Regions from separate parts of the Homo sapiens genome. Here region 2 is linked to region 1. The links come from fine-mapping of genetic effects on gene expression. Tissue or cell type: whole blood. Region 1 holds a variant in brackets; the other region holds the start of a gene. All regions are shown on one strand. Distances are from middle to middle.

Region 1 (8,310 bases):
AGAGCTGTGATATGAACCAACTTAGAAGGATCACTCTGTCTGCTGTGTGGATAAAAGACTATAAGAAATAAGGTGGAGAAAGAGACCATTTAGAAGACTGTAGCAGTCAATAGTTCTGGCAAGAGATGATAGTGCCTGGGACTACTGTGCATATTAGATACTGTAGGAACTAGATGTTTTTGGAACATACTTTAAAAGTAAAGTGCAGATGAATTGAATATAGGATATGAGAGAAAGAAAGTAGTCAAGGATCATACCATATATTTTTGTCTGAGCAAGTAGTAAACTACAGTGATCATTATAGTATCCTCCTTTATCCACAGGTGATATGTTCCAAGACCCCCCAGTGAATATCTGAAAATGAATACTACCAGAATCTATACTATGTTTTCTCCTGTACATATATACGTATGATAAAGTTTAATTTATAAATTAGGTAAAGTAAGATATTAATAACAATAATAATAAGAGAACAAGTATAATAATATAGTGTAATGAAAGTTATATTAATGTGCTATCTCCCTGTCTCTCAACATATCTTATTTTGCTGTACTAACCCTTATGATGATGATGTGAAATGATACAATGCCTATGTATGTGATGAGCTGAAGTGAGGTGAATGGCAGGCATTTTGATGGAGCATTAGGCTGCTATTGAGCTTCTAATAAGTCAGAAAGAAGATCATCTGCTTCTGGTGATCTTGGATCATTCAGCCATGATTGGATGCCTGGAGCAGACAATGTGATGGTAGAGGATTCCATAATTGAAGTTTTTTGCCAAAATGTTTTGGAATAACATTATAACCATAATAAAAATTTGTTGTCTCTTTCTTTTTAACTCATCAAAGTGTTGCTGCCGAGGTTGTAATCCTTTGGTAATCATAATCATATGAGTGACTTTAATGCTGCATTTGATCCAAGGATTATATTCCATAATTTTGTCCTTTAATGTCTTTGCAGCTGAAAACATGTCAGCAAATTTTCGTAATGTCCACATTGCTGATTCTGCTTCTGTTTTTTATTCTTCTTCGTATCCCTATTCCTCTGTAGATGATTCAACAAGTTCTTCCAATTTCTTATTTGTTAATACTTCTTGATGGCCTTCAAAATGTTCTTCCACCTGAGCAAGTATGTTGGCAAATCCTTCTCCTTTGCTGCAGGAATTATTTTCCTAACTTTGCCATCAACCTTCAGGAAGCTTTCACAATTTCACTCCATATGTTCTTTCAGCAGACATTTGCAGTTTTGGTTTTAATTCACCAATTACAACTTGATTAATATTATTGTGACAGCAATAGTGAGTGATTTCCAGCACTCCATAATGTCCAGATTAGAGTCTGCATCAATTGCTAATTGAATTCAATCAAATACTGAGCAGGTTTATGTGGCCTTGACAGACTAGATGATAACCTGGTCAAGGGGCTGAAGCAATTAGGTTGTATTTGGAGGTAAAAATGCAACATCAACATTTTCATTTTTGTAGCAAATATTCAGGATGGTTCAGTGCATTCCCTATTATTAAAAAGACTTTAAATTCCAATCCTTTATCTTCCAAGTATTTTTCACTTCCAGGATGAAGCATTGGTGGAACCATTCCATAAACAATATGGCTATCATTCATGCATTCTGATTATGTTACCATAACATGGGCAAATAATTTTTGGTTTTGGCATTGGTTTTGGATCTTTGCTTTGTACACTATGCCCGGCTTTATCACATGCCTTGCAGTATTGCCACACAGTACCAGAGTTAATCTGTCCTTCCATGTTTTATCACCTGATGCCTTTTTTGGACTTTTATGAATGTAGGTGCTATTGGTCATCTTCTTCCAGCAGAGCCAGGTTTCATCACAATTGAAGATTTGCTTTGGATGGTATCCTTTCTCCTTAATCAATTCCTTTAAATCTGCTGGAAATGTGCAGCTTCTTCATCTGCAGATACAGCCTCTTCAGTAATTTTTATATTTTCAGGTTCAAACCTATTCCTGAATCTGTATAATTATCTCTTACTTGTAGTAAATGGCTTGGTGTCACTCATTTCAAAGAATCCCTTGCTGAAGTCTTTATATAGGCTGAATGGGCCCAAGTACAACAGGTTGCCTTCAATCAGTATATGTTTTATTTTTTGCTCATGACTTCCACCCACAATTTAAGGCCTTTTCCATCATAACTAAGCACTTATCATGCACTGTGCCCATAAATTTTTCAGTTTGAGTAGCAAGAGCAAAACTAGCACAATTTTCTTTTTTCTATTTCACGATTTCATGTATAGAAAATTTATTATTACTGTATTAGTCAGTTCTCAGGCTGCTGATAAAGAGATACCCAAGACTGGGAAGTAAAAGAGGTTTTATGGACTTACAGTTCTGCGGGGCTAGGGAGGCCTCACAATCATGGCAGAAAGCAAGAAGGAGCAAGTCACATTTTACGTGGATGGCTGCAGGCAAAGAGAGAGCTTGTGCAGGGAAATTCCCATTTTTAAAACCATCAGATCTCTTGAGACTCATTCACTATCACAAAAACAGTCCAAGAAAGACCTGCTCCCATAATTCAATCACCTCCCACCAGATTCCTCCCATGACACATGGGAATTGTGGGAGTAACAATTCAAGATGAGATTTGGGTGGGAACACAGCCAAACCATACCATTCCACCACAGGCCCTCCCAAATCTCATGTACCCACACTTCGAAACAAATCATGCCTTCCTAACAGCCTCCCAAAGTCTTAACTCATTTCAGCATTAACTCAAAAGTCCACAGTCCAGCGTCTCATCTGAGACAAGGCAAGTCCCTTCCACCTATGAGCCGGTAAAATCAAAAGCAAGTTAGTTAATTCCTAGTTACAATGTGGGTACAGGCACTGGGTAAATAGGGCCATTCCAAATGGAAGAAATTGGCCAAAGCAAAGGGGCTACAGGCCCCATGCAAGCCAAAAATCCAGTGGGACAGTCAAATATTAAAGCTCCAAAATGATCTCCTTTGACTCCGTGTTTCACGTCCAGGTCACGCTGATGCAAGAGGTGAGTGCCCATGGTCTTGGGCAGCTCTGCCCCTGTAGCTTTCCAGGATACAGCCTCCCTCCCAGCTGCTTTCACAGGGTGTGTGGCTGTGTGTGGCTTCTCCAGGCGCATAGTGCAAGCTATCAGTGGATCTACCATTCTGGGGTCTGGAGGATAGTGGCCCTTCTCTCACAGCTCCACTAGGCAGTGCCCCATTAGGAACTCTACGTGGAGGCTCTAACCACATATTTTCCTTCCACACTGCCCTAGCAGAGGTTCTCCAGGAGATCCCTGGCCCTGCAGCAACCTTCTGTCTTTATATAAATGTCTTTATATTCAGGCATTTCTATATATTCTCTGAAATCTAGACAGAGGTTCCCAAACCTCAATTCTTGACCTCTGTCCACCCAGAGGCTCAAAACCATGTGGAAGCTGCCAAGGCTTGAGACTAGCAGCCTCTGAAGCCATGGCAAAAGCTCTACATCAGCTCCTTTCAGCCACGGCCGGAGCGACTGGGAAGCAGGACACAAAGTCCCTAGGCTGCACACAGCATGGGGACTCTGGGCCTGGCCCACAAAACCACTTTTTCTTCCTAGGCCTCTGGGCTTGTGATGGGAGGGGCTGCTGTGAAGACCTCTGACATACCCTGGAGACATTTCCTCCTTTGTCTTTGGGATTATCATTCATCTCCTCGTTACTTCTGCAAATTTCTGCAACTGGCTTGAATTTCTCCTCAGAAAATGGAATTTTCTTTTCTATTGCATTATGAGGCTACAGATTTTCCAAATTTTTATGCTCTGTTTCCCTTTTAAAACTGAATGCCTTTACCAGCACCCAAGTAATATTTTGAATACATTGCTGCTTAGAAACTTCTTCCACCAGACACCCTAAATCATCTTTCTCAAGCTCAAAGTTCCACAAATCTCTAGGGTAGGGGCAAAATGCTGCCAGTCTCTTTGCTAAAACATAATGAGAATCGCCATTGTTCCAGTTCCAACAAGTTCCTCATTTCTATCTGAGACCACCTTAGCCTGGACTTTATTGTCCATATCGCTATCAGCATTTTGGGCAAAGCCATTCAAGAAGTCTCTAGGAAGTTCCAAACTTTCCCATATTTTTCTGTCTTCTTCTGAGCCCTCCAAACTCTTCCAACCTCTGCCTGTTACCCAGTTCCAAAGTCACTTCCACATTTTCTGGTATCTTTACAGCAATGCCCCACTCTACTGGTACCAATTTACTGTATTAGTCTGTTCTCATGCTGCTGATAAAGACATTCCCAAGACTGGGAAGAAAAAGAGTTTTAATGGACTTAGAGTTCCACATGGCTGAGGAGGCCACACAATCTTGGGGGAAAGCAAGGAGGAGCAAGTCATATCTTACGTGGTTGGTAGCAGACAAAGAGAGAGCTTGTGCAGGGAAACTCCTGTATTTAAAACCATCAGATCTCATGAGACTCATTCACTTTCATGAGAACAGCTCAGGAAAGACCCACTCCCATAATTCAATCACCTCCCACCAGGTTCCTCCCACAACATGTGAGAATTGTGGGAGTTACAATTCAAGATGAGATTTGGGTGGGGACACAGCCAAACCATGTTAATTACCTTAGATCTTACCAACCTCAGCATACA[AC/A]TTTTTTCTTTTTTTTTTTCTTTTTTGCTTTCCTTAATTCAAGAGACTTCATCTTTTTACTTAAAGGAAGCACAATACAGTTTCTCTTTAGTGTATCCAAGTTGTCAGCATCATTACTCTTGTGCTTTGAGGCCATTATTAATTAAAATAAGGGCTAATTGAACAGAACACAGTGATACAGTGATACTCAACAAGCTGGGCAGTAAGTGACTAATAGGCAGGTGGTGTGCACAGCAAGAATATGCTGAACAAAGCAATGATTCACATTCCAGTTAGGACAGAGTGGGATGGTGTGAGATTTTATCACACAATTCAGAACTGTGTGCAATTTAAAACTTATGAAGTGGTATTATTAGCATTTTCCATTTAATATTTTCAGACCACAGTTTGCTGAAGGTATCTGAAACCACTGAAAGTGAGGCTATGGATAAGGGATACTACTGTATTATGAGACAAGGATGATTATCAAAAGGCCAGATTTAGAAGCAGAATATCAAGAATTCAATTGGGGATATGATAGGTTTGAGATGTCCATTGTAGATCTAAGTGGAGATGTGGAGTAACAGTTGAGTATATAAACTGAAATTTGAGCTAGGTGTAATCTCTTGCATTACTCCATTCTCAAATGGCTATAAAGAAATACCTGAGACTGGGTAGTTTATAAAGAAAAGAGGTTTAATTGACTTACAGTTCTGCAGATTGTAAAGGAGACATGGCTGGGAGACCTCAGGAAACTTAACAGTTACAGCAGAAGGAGAAGGAGAGGCAAGTATGTCTTACAATGGCAAAGCAGGAGAGAGAACAAAGGGGGAAAGGCTACACACTTTTAAACCACAAGATCTTGTGAAAACTCACTCAGTATCTTGAGAACGACAAGAGGAAAATCTGCCCCCATGATTCAATCACCTCCCATGAGACCCTCTCCTCTAAAACATGGGAATGACAATTTGACATGAGAATTGTGTGGGGACACAGAACCAAACCATATCATTCCACCATGGCTCCTCCCAAATCTCATGTCCTTCTCACATTTCAAAACAGAATCATGCCTTCCCAATAGTCCCCCAGGTCTTAACTCATTTCAGCATTAACTCAAAATCCAAGTCCAAAGTCTCATCTGAGACAAAGCAAGTCTCTTCTGCCTATGAGCCTGTAAAATAAAAAACAAGTTAGTTACTTCAAAGATACAAGGGGGGTAGAGGCATTGGGTAAATTTCTCCCATTCCAAAAGGGAGAAATTGGCCAAAACAAAGGGGTTACAGGCCCCATACAAGTCCAAAACCAAGCAGGAAACTCATTAAATCTTAAAGCTCCAAAATAATCTCCTTTCAGTCCATGTCTTACATCCAGGGCATGCTTATGTAAGGGGTGGGCTCCTACGGCCTTGGGCAGCTCTTCCCCTATGGCTCTTCAGGGTACAGCCACCACAGCTGCTTTCACAGGATGGTGTTCGGTGCGTATGGCTTTTCCAGACACATAGTGCAAGCTGTTGGTTGAACCATCATTCAGGAATCTGAAGGACAGTGGCTCTCTTCTCACAGCTCTACTAGGCACTGCCCCAGTGGGGAGTCTGCATGGAGGCTCCAACCTCACATTTCCCCTCTGCACTGCCCTAGTAGAGGTTCTTCATGAGGTCTCCACCCTTGCAGCAGATTTCTACCTGGATATGCAGGTGTTTCTGTACATCCTATGAAATCTAGGCAAAGGCTCCCAAACTCCAACTCTTGCCTTCTGCACACCACAGGCCCAACACCATGTGGAAGCTGCCAAGGCTTGGGACTTGCCCCCTCTGAAGTCATGACCCAAGCTGTACCTTGGTCCCTATTAGCCATAGCTGGAGTTGGAGTGGCTGGGACACAGGGTGCCATGTCCCAAGGCTGTACAGAGCAACGGGGCCTTGGGCCTGGCCCCAGAAAATGGGATTTTCTTTTCTACCACATGGTCAGGCTCTGTTTGTGAGCACATATAACTGAATGCTTTCAGCATCAACCAGGTCAACTCTTGAATGCTTTGCTGCTTAGAAATGTCTTCTACCAGATACCCTAAATCTTCTCTTTAAGTTCAAAGTTCCATAGATCCCTAAAGCAGGGGTACAATGCTGCCAGTCTCTTTGCTAAAGCATAGCAAGAGTGACCTTTACTCAAGTTCCCAATAAGTTCCCCATCTCCACCTAAGACCACCTCAGCCTAGACTTCACTGTCCATATCACTATTAGCATTATGGTCACAGCCATTCAACAAGTCTCCAGGAAGTTCCAAACATTTCCTCATCTTCCTGTCATTTTCTTATCTCTCTGAACTGTTCCAACACTTCCCCATTATCCAGTTCCAACGTCACTTCTACATTTTCAGGTGTCTTTATACTCCACTCTCGGTACAAATTTTCTGTAATAGTTCTTACTCACCTTGCTAAAAGAACTGTCTGAGACTGGGTAGTTTATAAAGAAAAGAGGTTTAATTGACTCACAATTCTGCAGGCTATGCAAGAAGCATGGCTGGGAGGCCTCAGAAAACTTACAAGAAAAGAGAAGGGGAAGCAAGCATGTCTTCTCATGGCAGGGCAGGAGAGAGAGCAAAGGGGAAAGTGCAACACACTATTTATTTATTTATTTATTTATTTATTTATTTATTTATTTGAGATGGAGTTTCACACTTGTTGCCCAGGCTGGAGTGCAATGGCATGATCTCAGCTCACCACAACCTCTGCCTCCCGGGTTCAAGTGATTCTCCTGCGTCAGCCTCCCAAATAGCTGGGATTACAGGTATGCCCCACCACGCCCTGCTAACTTTGTATTTTTAGTAGAGACGGGGTTTCTCCATGTTGGTCAGGCTGGTCTCGAGCTCTCGACCTCAGGTGATCCACCAGCCTCGGCCTCCCAAAGTGCTGGGATTACAGGCGTGAACCATCACGTCTGGCGTGCAACATACTTTTAAACAAGCAGATCTCATGAGAACTCACTCATTATCACAAGAACAGCAAGAGGGAAATCTACCACCAAGATTCAATCACCTCTCATCAGACCCCTCCTCCAACACATGGGAATTACAATTTGACATGAGATTTGGGTGAGGACATAGAGCCAAACCATATCATCTCTTAATCACAACTTAAAAATCAATCTGTGTGATCACAGATCCTGTTTTTTGTTTTGGTTCTGCTTAACTGTTAAATGTCTATGCCTAGCATGTGCCTGACACAGAGAAGGTATTCAATAATTGATATTTGGTGAATGAATGTACAAATTAATTTCTAGTTTCATGGTTTGAACAGGGCCTTGGGTATTTCTGATGATTTCTGAATTACCACCAATGACTATAATTTAAATTTTCAAACACAAATCAATGCGAATAGGGAATATGAGGAAATGTTGACTCTGGCCAAGTTATCTCTAAAACAACAACAAACGAAAAACAATTATTTTCCACTGGGAAAACCATTTGGATAACTGTTTAGTTAAACAAATTTTGTGTCCAGCTAAGATGTGGGTGTCTATAAACTTATATCCAAGACATACTTAATAGGCTTTGTTTCTAGAGTCCACCTTATGATGGCCTAATCATTTCTTCTTTGTAACCATAAAGAAATAGTGACAATTGCCTTCAGTCAATAGTCTAAGCAGAAATTTGAAAATTGCCCTCATAATATAAATCTGAGTTTCTTCTGTGTTGGCCTGAAGAAAG
Region 2 (8,310 bases), 120 kb after region 1:
GGAACAGAAATTTGAGAGTGCTATTCATGCACATATCTAGGATTACAGGACATGCGGATTCTCAATTCCAGTAGATATTATTAAATTGTTCTCCAAAGACACTGTGCTTCCATCAACGGTCAATTCCCATCCTGACATTTGGTACAATCAGAGTTTATTTTAAGATGCTTTGTCCCATGTGTTGGATAGAAAAGGGTAGCTCAATTTAATTTTCATTTCTTGTCTTCACATTCTCTATAGTAGTTTTATATGTCTGTTGTCATGTGAAATAAAAGGCACAGTCTGTTTATGGATGATATGTCATTCTGTGTGGCTGAAGCACAGAATACAGAAAGTACAGAGGACAAGACCCTCTCTCTTCCAGAGGTTTCTCCAGGCCCTTGCTCTTTTCCTCTCCACCCCATAAATTGCTGGTTTGCATCAGTAGATAGGGACAAACCTTTCCTTTTTTCCTTGAATGTACCACAGTAAATTAGAGAGTTTATAAATGAATGAATGTGGTACAAAAATACTGGTCTTGACAGAAACATTTGAAACCATTTCCTTTGTTTTTGCCCAAAACTTGGTTTCTGCCCAGTTTGGATCATAGAATAGTAAGGTGCCTCAGAAAACACACACAAATTTTATCCAGGTCTGGAGACATGACGGCAAAGACTTGGCAGGAATACATCCACCTTCTCCTTATCCCATCTAGAAGGCAGAAAGGGCAGGAAAGATAAATCAGGGTATGAACCTGATTTACTGGCACTGATTAAGAAGGTTCTGCCTCTGAAAGCTCCCATAAGGATATAATTTTCAGGTAACAATTCCTATACGTTATTTTCAGAGAAAATGATTATTTTAGCCAAAATCTTATTTAGTCTTTCCATGCTAAGAATAAAGTGGCAACCAAAAGGAATCAATACAGCACACAGAACTCTCAAAAATTTAACAAAAATCTATGTTCTCAACTCTGGTCAACAAAGCACCAGAGCTAGGAAAAACTACACTCCAAAAATTGATGAATGTGTATCACATTCCCAACTACAGTGGGTAAACTGAAAATCACTATAAATATTTGTTTTCAAAAATAATTTGCTGTTATCATTCCAGTAACACTATAATGCCATATTGCCTCAAATACAAATAGATTAGTCTAATCCAGGGATTCTTAACCCTGGGCAATTTTGTCCCTCTGGGGACATTAGGCCTTTTTTGTTTTTTTGGTGCTCAGATTAGAAAGGTTATACTACTGGCATCTAGTGCACAGAGGTTAAGGATACTGCTAAACATCAATGCACAGGATAGTCCCTCAAAGCAAAGAAGTGTCTGGCTCAAAATGTCAATAGGGCCAAGAAATTGTGATTTAAACCATTTCTTCTTGGTTAGCTGGGACATGTTGACAAATATACAGGGTTAGAGATGATAAGCACTCTTCTTAAAGAACTATTAAGCTAGACAATTTAGGGTCCTATAGAAGATCTTGATATTTATGTCAACGAATAAGCTTCTATTTAGTAATTTTCAGTTGAAACTTGTAAAGAATAAAATAGACCACAGTCCATGATTCTGCCCACTTTATCAAGCAGTTTACCTCTACATTTATTAGTTTATCACATAACCTATGAGAACACCTACCTACACCGAAATTTGTAATCAAACTGACTACTGCTGGCTTCACCTATCACAAATTAGTATTTTCCCACATTTCGACCCTAACCGAATTCTCCATGCCTGCTTACCAAGTGACCAGTCCTCAGATTTAAACAGTGGGTTTCATGTGGTCGTTTCCTGAGGAAACTTTCATACCTAAAATTCTCTTTCTCTGATATCACAATCCATTAAAAGTTTACTGTCCAGTTCCATGAAATTTAAAATCCAGAGTGAGAAGGGAATTTGATTTTGACTATAAATATAAAGGCAGATACAAAGGGATGTCCTCTATTAAAAAGTTAGGGGTGTTGGCAATGAAGTGGAATAAAATATACAAAGGCCAAAGAGGCCTCTCTAAATATTACAAAGTCCTTAGAGGTTATTTTATTTCCCAGTTAAAGTCTCCTTGGGTGTTTCAACAAAGAAAGACATTTTTCTGGGGAAGGCTTTTTGTTCTGTTTTTCCTTTTTAAATTTCTCTACTTCCAAATTTGCTGAAAGTATTTACTTTCTACTTTCCAGATATTATGTTAGAAGAAATATTTTTAAATTATGCAAAAGTTTAGTTCAAATTTAGAGGAATCACACGGGTTCAGAAATCCATTTTTAAATGGTCACATATACCTAACAGAAAGAAAAGCATCCTGTAACTGATAGAAATCCATCTGAATGCTGAAGTTTCTCAAGCTAACAAAGCAAGCACTGTTTTGTAGAAAGATAGGCAGTTCAGCCTGCTGACGCTTTCTGAAACACTTAAAGATGAAGACAAAACTATCGCTACATGGATTAGCTGGACTGCAAACCAAATGTCACTTTCTGAATGTAACTCTGAAATAGAAATTTCTGTCCTTAGGCTTAAGAAAAGTTCAAGTAGAAAAGCACTCTATTATAAACTTGGGGGAAAAAATGGTGCCAAGATGACTTAACAAAAAACAAAACAAAACAAAAAGGACATTAGAAGGTCATTTAAATGCAAGATCTAATTTCAGAGAGTTGAGCACAAAGAGCACAAATGTGGAAAACTCCAAGGATTTTTCATGTGCCACAAAAGGCAGCAAAGCATGTTTAGACAGACGTGGTGAAACTCTCTTTAATCTGGCTAAATATAAAACGTTTTGTTTTACACAGCTTCTGAAAACGAGAGACAGCACCGGGCTCAAGAAAAGGGTAGGTAAGGGGAGCAGCTGTGTGTCCACAGCTTCCCCTTCAGATCCCAAAGGAAGAAAGCTGCCGCCTGGAGGTACTGGGTAGCCAGGCAGCCTTACTGAAAACAACTAAGGTTTTCGAGCGAGCGTTGTTTTTGGCAAGAGGGAGGTGTTACCGGCTGCTTCCTGGGGTGCTGGAAGGAATGTGTCACCATCAATTAGAAAGTACACTAAGCCCCGTGTTTAGGTCACAGAAGGAGTACTGCCTCGTCCATCAAGGATAAATCCATGCCAACTCTCGGAAAGGAGGGGAAAGGAGAGCTGCAGGAAAGGTGTTGGTGCCCATGACCTGCAAGTCCAAAAGGAAACTCCAACTTGTTCTGCAGGGAAATTCGGGCACGCTGAGTTCACCGAGAACTCCAAGGAGTCAACGAGGGCGGGTGCCCCTACACTTCCCCAGGGACCAGCGCCGCCCGACCGCAATTCTGGGGAAGACCCCGGCGGTCCTGGAGAGGAGGGACAGGCCCCCACTACTCACCTGGCCAGCCCCGCGGAAGGGCTGGTGGATGAATGAACTGCCCCCCCGCCGGCCGAGCCTCGCGGGACAGCGGCGGACCGCGGGGTGCTCACCTGTGGGGATGCTCGAGGGCTTCTCCGAGTCCGCACCCAGACAGGGATTCCAGGGGTGGAGGACGAGCGCCAGGAGCAGCAGCTGAGGCTTCACCGTGCATCCCCCCATATTCGGCCCTCGAGGGCCGCGCGGGCTCAGGCGCCCACGGCCCCGCAGCGCCGCGCTTCTCGCGAGAACGCAGAGACCCGGGTCCGCCCTGAGCCGCCGATTGCGGGCGGGAGCCGGCGGGCAAGGCGCGCGGCCGGCAGCCGGAGCGGCGCGTAACGCAGCTGAGTGAGGTCGTCGGTGGAGGCACGGAGCAGCAGGCGCCCGGGGCGCTGCGGAGGCCTTATAGGCTCCCCGAGGGGAGGCGACGGGGCGGGCCGCGCCCTGGCTATTGGCCGCCGGCTGACCCGCCGCCGCTGCGCGCCCGGTGCGGTCGCCTCAGCTCGCCCTCCTGGGCCCCACGTCTGGACTGTTTGCTCAGCGCGGACGCTATTTAAGGAGCTGCCTGCGGCTACGTGTGGAGGCTCACGCAGCGCTTCTGGCTGGAACGGGGAAGCCTGCACTTAGCTTTGGGAGTGGGTTTGGGAGAGGGAGGAGGAGCCGCCGGGAGTCTGGCGGGAGGGCGGTGTTCCCGTCTGGGTTCCTCTCTGCTGTCCCAGCCCCGGTAGCTTCCACAGCAGCCTCGAAGGGTGAGAATTTGCTCTTCTATGGACTTGGATACTCCACCCAGTCTGAAGTGACTGCAAATCTGCGGCAATCTTGGCTGACTGGGACCTCGCCAGACTCTTAAGCCATGGAAATGGATCGCCCCTCATTAATTCAGGGGCAGGTTCATCACCCTGTAAAAGGAAGGCCGTGATTTTATTTTACTCCGTAAACCGAAAGTTTTATTGTCCAGTGAACATTTCTTGCTCCGCCGCTTGTGCCAAGAGAGCCTTAGACTCTTTCCAGTAATGAGGCTTGTAAATCCTGCGGAATCGGAGCCCAACGTGTGTAATGCCGGGGCTGTGCTTACAAGATCGTGCTCCAGTCCGCATGGAAAATTACTCCCAAAGACGTGGTCGGAGAGGTCGAGATCTCTGAGCCTTGGCCCCCACTGCTTCCACTTTTGACTGATGTCTAAGAAAATTCCCTTTTTTCTGTTCTCACATTTTAACTAGCCAAGGGTTTAACTTGTTGGAATGAGTGGGAGCAAAAGCACAATTAAGAAAAAAGCTTGACAGTTTTGCCTCATACATTTAATGACATAAGCTATTTTATAGGAGAAAGAGAACCAAACTGCTACCATTCTGGAATCTCCTGCCTAAATTTTCGTGAAATTAGAAAAAAACAGAATCGAGACAACACCCGTTATAACTCTGGGCCTTTGAAATTAAGACAGAAAATTATGGAAAAATGTGTTCCATTATGATCACGTTTTGTCTAAAATTAACATATCAAGATAACATGAACTTAATGCTTTCATCTTGATAGCATTAAAAACAGGTGGAAAACCCTGCAAAGAAATCTTGCCTGGGATGTGACATTTTAGAAAGAATCATTTCCTGTGCCCAGAACTAAGCCAGTTATTACTCTGTTTTGAAGGTTTGGTCTCAGTTTTTTAAAAGAAGAGGAAAACTGGAGAAAGTTCTGAGAAGAGTAACAAATAATTAAAGAAGTGGAAACTATGACCTGTGAGAAGAATGAAATAAGGTTTATTTAGTCTGAAGGGGAAAAAAAAAGCTAAAAGATGGATTCCTTAATAACAGCCTTTCATGTGTGGCAAGTACAGCTTCATAAAACTAGGCACAAAGCAAACAGCATCAGTCCTCTGAGTCCAAGGACTCTGCTAGGAATGGCTGGTGTTTTGGCCAGATCTGTCTCCAGAAAGCCAAACCTGCAATTGCCAAACTCCTTGAACTTGACTTCTTGCTTCCTTGGTTCTCCAGTATCTTTAAGAACTTGGAGAGCTACAACCTGGCTTCCTGCCCTCCCAAACCCCCGTTCCCCTCATGAATGCTTACCGGCTTCTCTGCATCACAGGTGTGTGTGTGTGTTTAAACTCCAAAAGTCCACTAATAATTTCAGGTTATTTTGACATTCTTCCTTCTCTGTTAAGAGTCACAACATCTGTGCTGTGAGACTCGTATAAAGCAAGTGTTGGGATTTTCAAATACCTAGACATTTCTAACAGTCTGAAAGAGCCCCAATTCTCAAACCAAATCCTTCCTGCTTTCTTACATTTCCAGCCATCTGCTGAACATTTCTACTTGGATGTTCCATTGGCAAAAACTCGATATGTCTTTTTTTTTTTTTTTTGAGACAGTCTCGCTCTTTTGCCTAGGCTAGAGTGCGGTGGTGCGATATCCCCTCACTGCAAGCTCCCTCCGCCTCCCGGGTTCACACCATTCTCCTGCCTCAGCCTCCTGAGTAGCTGGGACTACAGGCGCTCGCCACCAGGCCCGGCTAATTTTTTTTTTTTTTTTTTGTATTTTTAGTCGAAACGGGGTTTCACCGTGTTAGCCAGGATGGTCTCGATCTCCTGACCTCGTGATCCGCCCGCCTCGGCCTCCCAAAGTGTTGGGATTACAGGCGTGAGCCACCAAGCCCGGCCTGATATGTCTTTTAACTCATCAAATCCAGATCCCACTCGGCTCCCTCATCTCTGTTGATACTACTGCTCTCTAACTCATATGGCCTCAGACATTTTTACTTCTCTCTTTCCATCCCCCACACCCGCCAACTCACAGAGCCGGACTCCAAATCTTGTCATTTTTTCCCTTCATGTTCTCTCTTCATCTATTCCTTTCCATTCTCACTGCTACCTCACTAACTAATGCACTCTTGAGTGTATCCTATGCCATTTCCTGTAGACTTTCCCTACCACCAGTGTAATACCACTATATACCACAACTAGATTAATCATACTCAGATATCCTTTTGATTGCTTCATCCCCAAACAGATTTCATAACAGATTTGGAAACAATCCACATTCCCTAACCTAGTATTCAGATTCCTTCATGCCAAACTAAACCCAACCAACGTAGTTTGCTTTATTATCTCCTAAAGCAGACCAAATACTTTGTCACTTTAATTCTCTAAAGTTTAGGTAGGAATCATTTGGGTTCCTCTGAAGCCCAAGCATGAGCCCAAATTCAGTGACTAGCGGTTTGTGGAGAGTTTTGAGAAAACCAGATAGGTGAAGCTAAAATGACACAGGAAAGGGAAAATATCCAATTAAATCAACCACAGTGGGTAATGGGAGCTTAATCCCACAAAATTGATGTACTATATATCACTCAAAAATATCCTGGTCAATGGGTCAGAGAACTGGGATATATATTCCCAACACCTATCAGTCATTGACTTAAGGGCTGAGGGACACTCATTAATTCCCAGGCATTCCCAACCTGCTATGGTAGCAGCCACTCTGATGATGTAACTCTTGATCATAAGAAGTCAGGGTGACATGCTCAGAAATGGTAAGGAAATTTGAGGAGAAATGAGAGAAGCAGCATTTGCTCAGCAACCATACCTTTGTTCATGTTATCCCTATATCTAAAAAAAAAAAGGATGACAAAACCTGTCCTCCTTCCTTCATTGGGCTAATGTCTGTCAAGCTCAAGTGCCACCTCCTACAGGAAGCCCAACTGGGGTAACTTACCCTACCTCAGGATGGGTTTAGATGTCCCTGTTCCATGATTTCTAACTTCTGAAGCAAACCTCTCTCATTTGTGACAGGGTCTTTTCTTAGAATTATTATTAGACAGTGTGTCTGTTAAGGTCAGGATTCAATTATTTTTCATCATCAAAGAGTAAGTACCATAGTAGCACATTTGTTTATTCATTGATTCATTCAAAAAATATTCCATGACTACTATATCTCAGGCATTGTTCTAGATAGATATTGGTAAAAACAAATTTATTAGTGACAGAAAAAACAAAAATCTACTGTGCTTTAGTTTCAGGTGAAACAGAGATAAACATATAAGGTAATAAGTGGTAGAGAGAAAGTAAATCAGGAAAGGTAACTGGGAAGGACCAATAAGGAGGGGAGGTATACCAAAACCTTAGTAAGGGATCCTGGGAAAGCCCCACTGAGAAGACGATTCTTGAGCAAAGACCTGAAAGTGGTGAGAAAAAGAGGGGGCCAGGATGTACAGGGGACCTGTGTTCCAGGCAGAAGAAACAGGAAGTGCAAGGACTGTGAGACCAGAAATACCTGGAGTGTTGTGAGGAAGCAAGAGGGCAATTGAATGTTCAGTGACTGTGCATAAGAATAGTAGGAGATGAAGCCTGAGAAGGTAACAAGCAGGGCGGAGGCAAGCAGATAAACAGACAGTGTGATAAGGGTAGAACCTAGTAACAGCTTTGTCCTTTACCCTGGATGAATTGAAAAGCCATTTGGATGGTTCTAAGCAGAGCAGTGACATGATCTGAAGTAGGATTTAAAAAGGATCACAGAGTCCACAGCTGCCACATTAGAGGAAGATAAGGGAGAGTGAGTGGAGAAATAAAACAGAAAGTCTGTAGACCTGTAGACCAACTTGAAAGCTAATGCAGTGGTCCAGGAGAGAGATGACGGAGGCTTTAAGCAAGTCAGTAGCAGTAAATGAAGGTCAATTTCCAGATAGATTTGAATGTAGAGTCAACAAAATTTGATGTCTGAATGTGGGCGTAGGAGAGAAAAAGGAGTCAACGAATATTTATTCAATGAATATTTGTGGAGTGAATAAGAAGTAAAGCTTTGGGAATTCGCGGAATAACCCTGGAGGTACAGAGGAAGGGGGATGTTAAATGAATTAGAGGACAAAGAAAAACCACCAGACATCCAAGAGCTGAAACTCAGAGAGGGCGGACCCTTTTGAGGAAAGAGGAAAAAAGAAATCAGCAAAGGAGACTGTTAAAGTCAGATAAATAGGAAAAGTATTACAGAAG

The links. PIP is the estimated chance that this variant, and not a neighbour inherited with it, causes the effect.
Region 2: it holds the start of PLOD2, and the variant in region 1 is fine-mapped to the expression of PLOD2 in whole blood (INTERVAL, PIP 0.95).

The regions. Positions count from the first base shown.
Region 1 is chr3:146,039,370-146,047,679 of GRCh38, forward strand. No RefSeq gene overlaps it. Among named protein-coding and RNA genes, the nearest start is that of LNCSRLR, 26 kb to the right of the region's middle. The variant AC/A (reference allele first, on the strand shown) is at 4,630.
Region 2 is chr3:146,157,475-146,165,784 of GRCh38, forward strand. It overlaps PLOD2 (procollagen-lysine,2-oxoglutarate 5-dioxygenase 2), which reads right to left and starts at 3,710. Exons shown (of 20, transcript NM_182943.3): 1 at 3,407-3,710. The coding sequence starts at 3,515.